Linked DNA regions of Homo sapiens. The protein of the gene in region 2 purifies or fractionates together with the protein of the main gene of each other region. This does not show direct contact. Each region holds a gene or a part of one and is shown on either strand. Other genes may lie near its edges.

The links. Proteins that work in one complex are often made in the same cells at the same time.
Region 1: the proteins of CNOT6 (region 2) and TNKS1BP1 purify together in Homo sapiens (affinity purification with mass spectrometry; 3 studies listed by BioGRID and IntAct, with this or other methods). This does not show direct contact.

Annotation. Positions count from the first base shown.
Region 1 is NC_000011.10:57,304,354-57,307,952, reverse strand, and holds part of TNKS1BP1 (182 kDa tankyrase-1-binding protein), read left to right. Parts: intron 1-3,599.
Region 2 is NC_000005.10:180,497,297-180,500,895, forward strand, and holds part of CNOT6 (CCR4-NOT transcription complex subunit 6), read left to right. Parts: intron 1-3,599. UniProt on the Homo sapiens protein: Poly(A) nuclease with 3'-5' RNase activity.

The DNA of each region.
Region 1 (3,599 bases), on a different chromosome or scaffold from region 2:
ACAGTGGAACCCACGGGTTCTCAAAGAGGTTAGGTACTTGGTGCTTCTTGCCTGTCCTGTCTTGAAGCCTGGAATAGCAAGTTCAAGAACCTGAAGGGTATGGGGACCTGGCCCCATGACCTTGGCCTCTGTGCAAATTTGCTGAAAGAACTTTCCAAAGGCTTTGCAAGGCAAGCACAGTCTGTTTCATGGATGTTTTAAAACCAGCTGAGATGGTTTTGCAGCTGAGAAACGTGCTAAAAAGGCATTGCATCCGTTTTGTTAACATTTCCATCCATTGAGATTCGCTTTTATTCCCTTTAGTGAGCAGAAAATGTTACCTTTTCCAGCCCCACAGTGGGAGCTTCTCACTGGGTATGTGGGGAAGGCAAGGGAAGTGTGGGGCAGGGGCTTTTATAAGTGGAAGGGGTTGGTGGTGGGAGGAGAGGAGCAGGAAGGGGCTAGAGCATATCATGGTGGTCTTGGGGACTCTGGAGAGGCATTTGGGATGGAGGAGGAGAAGGGAGAGAGGAAGATGGGCCCAGTGAGATGCCCAGGGGGATTTGAGGAAGTGGAGCTTCCTGACGACTCAGGCTGTTGACGGGGTGGTGACGGAGCACAGGGAACCACTGAGGCTGCATTGAGGACTGCAGGGACGAGGGGAGGGCGCAGGACTAGGAGTTGGGAGGCCCTTGTGGTCCTGGGCAGGTTGCTGGGCTCTGAGCCTCAGTTTCTCAGGGTTTGACTCAGGAAGTGCAGAGTTCCAGCTTTAATGTTCTTGGTGCAGGGGAGAGTCCAGGCTTGGCGTGGTTGTTCCTGATTTCTCTTCCTGGGACTCATAGAACTTTGCACACCCCATGCTTAACCACACGTCTTACCTCATTGATCTTCACAGCTGCTCTGTGAAGCAGGAAAGTGATTTTTATCCTCTCCGCTGGAGGGTCGAAAGGTGGTGTGACCCCTTAAGGGCAAAGAGTCAGGAGTACCTCTTTCTCACTTGTATATGTTAACTGCTTTCAGGTGTGGCCACTGTGGGACCACTGCCCCCCTCCCACCCAACCCCCCCCCCCACCACCACAGCTCTCTGCCTTTCCGTTCTGTGTGGGGTGGCTCTTAAGAAGTGGAAAGTGATCATCTTGTTCCCTTAGTTTAGGATGGAGGGAGGTGGGGCGGGGATTGTGATGGGACTAGGTTAGGGGAAGAGGAGGATAGTGTCATCATTGTGTCTTTAAAACACCCAGGCTTTTGTGGTTGTGTTACCGTAATCTGGCCAGTGTTGACTTTAACCCGAGTTCAGGGGTTAGCCGTGATGCCATACAGGTGAGCCTCATTGTATGCAACAGAAAGCGTGGCTCCTAACAGAAAGCACGGCTCCTCAAAAAGCCGAACGAAAACAGTTGCTTTAGAGAGGAGTTCGAGGGGCTTGTTTGAATTTTATGCTTTCGGGCAGCCTTTTCTAAAATGTGTCCTAAAGAATACCAGTCTGTGAATATGTTTGGAAAATGCTGGGTACTCTGTGGCCGTACAGAAGACTTAGTCTGTATATTAGCATATATTAGTACCTTAAAGACAAGTAATGCAGTATTTTCCAAGCTAATTTGGCTAATGTCCAAGAACCTAGTGTTCTGAGCAGGGAAATTCTGATGTAGGGAAATTCTACACTATGGGCACTTTCTCTTTTTTTTTTTGAAACGGAGTCTTGGTCTATCGCCCAGGCTCCCAGCCTGAAGTGCAGTGGTGCGATCTTGGCTCACTGCAACCTCTGCCTTCTGGGTTCAAGCGATTCTCCTGCCTCAGCCTCCTGAGTAGCTGGGAATACAGGCGCACATCACCACGCCCGGCTAATTTTTGTATTTTTAGCAGAGATGGGGTTTCACCATGTTGGCCAGGCTGGTCTTGAACTCCAGACAGACCTCAGGTGATCCACCCACCTCGGCCTCCCAAAGTGCTGGGATTACAGGCATGAGCCACCATGCCTGGCCCACTATGGGCACTTTCTCTTTAAAGAAAATTTTGGAGGTTCCCTTTGTAACGAGAAGTCCTTGAGAATAGCTCAGAGGGGTCTGGCTCTGGGTCCATCTGCCAGGCTTGCGTTCTGATTCTGTCACCACCTCTGTGACCTTGGGCAAGTTTGTTCTCTTCTGCGGGCCTCCGATTCCTCGTCTGTAAGTTGGGAGTAACTTACTCCCAGTACTCATGGGGTTTTGTTAATTGTTCCTCACAAAAACTAGGGAAACTGAGACCCAGAGAGGCAGTGTGACTTGCACCGGTTCCCACGGCTGGTGGCTGTGGGTTCTTCTTGTCTCCCTGGGCCCAAGCCGTGCAGTCTTCTCTGGGCACCCTCCCTGTCTCTCTGGGGTCAAGGTCAGCTGCTATTTCTCTAGACACATCTTTCCAGCTTCACCCCTCCCTCATTTCAGGTCTCAGAACACTGGGATATTCACGTTTTGTAGTTCCAGCGCCATGTTTGCCTCTGGAGCAGTGGTGGAGGGTGGGGTGGGATACCGTCTTGGTCCTCAGGGTACTCTAAAGTTTAGACCAGGTGAAGGGTGTAGATGCGACAAGATGAGGCACATCCTCTCTGGCCAGGGACCCGTGTTGAGGATGATAATGACTATCCTAATAATTTGTTGTATTTGTCAAGTGCTAACTATGTGTTAGGCACATATTTCTGCCAACAAACTAGAACAGTTTATGTACTTTTATTATCCCCATTTTACAGATAAACTGAGGTTCAGAGTGGGACAAATAACTTGTGGTCAAAGCCACAGGCATAGGAGGAGACAGAGCCTAGCTGTGTCCTGGAGTGGCAGGACTCAGTCCCTGTGTTCCTAACTACCCCTCTTTCCTGCTCCCATGCCGGGAGGGGCTCAGCTTATACATGATCTGGGTGCTTAGGGGTAGGAAAGCTGCTTCTAAGATGGGGTGAAGGGCGAGTGGGGTTTAGTCCGGCGGGGTGGACGTAGCTGCACTTTCTTGGGTTTTCCCCACTCGCCACTCTCTGCTCCTCAAGGCCACCTCCAGAGCTCACTGACCTCTGCCTGAGTGGCTTGGGCCACCTCTCGCTTTAGGAGTGGATTTTTTTTTTTTTTTTTTTTTTTGAGACGGAGTTTTGCTCTTGTTGCCTGGGCTGGAGTGCAGTGGCGCGGTCTTGGCTCACTGCAACCTCCACCACCCGGGTTCAAGCGATTCTCCTGCCTCAGTCTCCCCCAAGAAGCTGGGATTACAGGTGCCTGCCACCATGCCTGGCTAATTTTTGTATTTTTAGTAGAAACAGAGTTTCACCATGTTGTCCAGGCTGGTCTGGAACTCCTGACCTCAGGTGATCCGCCTGTTTTGGCCTCCCAAAGTGCTGGGATTACAGGCGTGAGCCAGGGCATTTCACATCTCTTTAGCTCATGGGGCCTGCCCTTAGCCTTCTTTTGCCCCACCCCAGGGAGAGGCTTTGGGCCTGGCCTCTGTAGTCTGGGTGGGGTGCTGTTGCCACCCCCTCCCTCCAAATTCTCCCTGATTTTAAGCTGGCTGTCAGGGTGAGCTGGCTTTGGCCCCCAGCCAGGGCTGCTCCCAATTCTGCTGCCTTGCTGTACTTCTGCTGCCGCCACTGCCTCCTCCCCCAATGT
Region 2 (3,599 bases):
ACCCTGGGCAACGAGTGAAACTCCGTCTCAAAAAAAAAAAAAAAAAGTATGCATTTTGGTGAATGCTTAGACATTCCAGTACCTATATTTGCCTTCTTATATTCTTTAAATGATAAACCTTTTTCATAGTGCAACAGAAAAGGATAATATATGTAAGACATATTGGAATAAATGGTTAAGGCAGCTCACAGCTGTATTCTTTGGGCCGTTAGGGGTGAGGGATCAGTATGTTCAGCACCTTTAGAACCCATTCCCATATGCAAGGTCCACTGGCTTGGGAAGCTCTGCTTGAAAGCATTTATTACTTTGGAAAAGTCCTAATAGGCTCAGCTAAAAATGTATGTTTTACTGGGAAAACCAAAGACTTGGATATGTAGATATCTTTATACCCATTACTCATACAGTCATTTTATAACAAAAGTGTGATTAATAAAACGCTGTGTATGTGAAATTAAGAATTGCTGAGACTGGGCGCGGTGGCTCATGCCTTTAATCCCAGCACTTTGGGAGGCCGAGGCGGGCGGATCACTTGAGGTTAGGAGTTCGAGACCAGCCTGACCAAGATGGAGAAACCCTGTCTCTACTAAAAATACAAAATTAGCCAGGCGCAGTGGCACATGCCTGTAATCCCAGCTACTCGGGAGACTGAGGCAGGAGAATCGCTTGAACCTGGGAGGCAGAGCCTGCAGTGAGCCGAGAGCACGCCATTGCACTCCAGCCTGGGCAAAAAGAGTGAAACTCCATCTCAAAAAAAAAAAAAAAATGCTGAGTAAACTGTAAACATATACTGTATGCATAGCTGGGGTACATTAGAGTATAATGGAATGTACTGTATTTTGGTACTTGAATAAGTAATTAGCGAGGTGGGGGGTTATTTGATCCAAGATGAGGACTCATTTAGGCTGTCTCCACTTCGCTCTTCTCTGTCCTTCACCTCTCCTTCATCCATTTATATTTTCTTGGTAACTTCAGTTACACGTTAAGGTATGTACTGGCCATAGTGTTTTAACACTGAGAATTCAAAGACAAATAATACTCCGATTTTGCCTTCTCATAGTGTATAGGCTTCATAGGTGCACAGAGTGCTGTGGGAGAACACAATAGAGAATGATTAAACTTGTGGAGGGTGTGGGGGCAGTTTACGGAAAATAACACTGAATAGGAATTTGCCAAACTGGGGAGAGGGAGTCATGTCAAACAGAAGGAAGTGTGGGTGCACTGAGGTGTCAAGTGTTAGGGTAAGGCTAGTGATAAGGTGTTACTGGAACAGTGGGAATGACTCGAGATGAGCCTGCAAAGGTGTGTCTGGTCTAGATTTTGAAGGACCAGCCTTGCTAAGCTAAAAGGGAAGTGTATAGCCTTATCTGACAGCAGAAGAGAGAGCCAAAATATTGTTAGCAGAGGAGCAAGGCGATTTGGAGGTCACTTTGGCATCCCTGTGGAGAATAGAGTGGAGGCCCTACAAGTGTATATTTGAGATAGTATGGAGTTAGTGACTTTGAATCTGTTTTCTTCTTTTTTTCTGAGATGAAGGCTCACTTGGAGTGCGGTGGCGCGATCTCGGCCCACTGCAACCTCCGCCTCCTGGGTTCCAGCCATTCTCCTGCTTCAGCCTCCCGAGTAGCTGGGATTACGGGCTCCTGCCACCACGCCGACTAATTTTTTTGTATTTTTAGTAGAGGCAGGGTTTCACCATGTTGGCCAGGCTGGCTTTAAACTCCTGACCTCAAGTGATCTGCCCACCTTGGCCTCCCAAAGTGCTGGGATTACAGGCGTGAGCCACCATGCCTGGCCTGGATCTATTTTTAACTTGGATATGGTGTCTTCTGAGTCTGTGGTCCCTTAAGGGACTTTAGGGCTATGCCCAGTTGCTCTATAATACAGGGTCATTTAAAATCAAAGTGTCAGTATGTTTTGGAAGAAGTTAAAAGCAGTCAAAACAATGAAAGTTATAAAATGTTACTCATGAAAGTTCAGGTGTTGAGAATACTTGTCTTCTGAGTTAGGCTTAGGCAGGCTATAGACCTTAAGCTGGAAAATTCAACCCTATGTCCACTTGAAATCAAAGCCACCAAGCTTAAAAAGTTACCAGTATCCTGATGGTTTGCTAGGATATGGGTTGTAAACATTTTGTGAAATTTTGGGGGGAAGGCAGTTTTCTCTCTAGTAAATTATTGGAATTGGAATAGTGAGACTAGCTTAAGGTCTAAGAAGTTCTCATACAACTGTTAATTTATACAGTCAGTTCTGCTGTAAAGCAACATACAGGTTCCTAAAAATCACTGCTTTGCAGAATCGTGCAGTAGAAATGACTTACAAATGGGGTTGGGGTACAGCACTCTAAAGCTTTATCAGTGACACATTTAAAAAAGGAACCTGGTAAAAATGATAGAACAGTTTTACACGTTGAATGGTTAAGAAATATATAGATACTGTAATAAATGTGGCATTTTCTTTGAAAAAGCCCTGGTTTGCTTGTGGAAAGGGATGTCAGAAAGGTTGCTGCTGGTGAGTTACTGTGAAGTGGTAGAAGAATTACTTATAATCAGATGGAAGGTTGTAACACGAGAAGCAAATAGGTGTGGCTCTTAACCCATAATAAACTGACTTAGCTGGTGGGTGTTTGAAGTGTGTTTCATGTATTTCTACACAGTTCAGTTCGGCTGGGTGCAAGCTTTCTCCCTTCATCTAGTGTTTATGTGACAGAATAGCACATAAATAAACAGGAAATATGGATTGTGCTCAAATTGTTCTCTAATTTGTGTATCAATCACAGTGGAACAAATTCACCTTTTCTTTTCTTTTTTTTTCCCCCCTTTTTCTTTCTTTTGCTTTTCCTTTTCCTTTTCTTTCTTGACAGGGTCTCACTCTGTGTCACCCAGGCTGGAGTGATGATGACTTGCTGCAGCCTTGACCTCCCAGGTTCACCCGAGCCTCCTGAGTACCTGGTATCACAGGTGTGTGCCACCACACCTGGCTGATTTTTCTTATTTTTAGTAGAGATGAGGTCTCTCTACGTTGCCCGGTTTGGTCTCACACTCCTGGGCTCAAGCAGTCCTCCTGCCTCGGCCTCCCAAAGTGCTAGGTTTATAGGTGTGAGCCACTGCACCTGGCCAAATTCACGTTTTCTTTTTCTTTTCTTTTCTTTTTTTTTTTTTTGAGATGGAGTCTCACTCTGTTGCCCAGGCTAGAGTGCAGTGGCGCTATCTAGGCTCACTGCAGGCTCCGCCTCCCGGGTTCACGCCATTCTCCTTCAGCCTCCTGAGTAGCTGGGACTACAGGCACCTGCCATCATGCCTGGCTAATTCAAATGCACGTTTTCAAAACAAGTTTTATAGTTGATTATACTTGTTTAATACTAGTTTTAAATAGTACTATAACTCAGTTTCAAAAATACTTGTTGAACAATCTATGTGTCAGGTAACATGCTACCTTTGTGGGGCTTAGAGTCTTTTGTCCCAAGTAGGTTTATAGTGTTGTGGAGAAGGACAAATGAACCAATAGAGTACTCATCGGGTTATACAGTAATTAAGAAAGCACAAAGCATTTTGGGCATGCTAAGGAAGGAGAAAGTCATTCTGCTTGGAAAACCCAGGGAG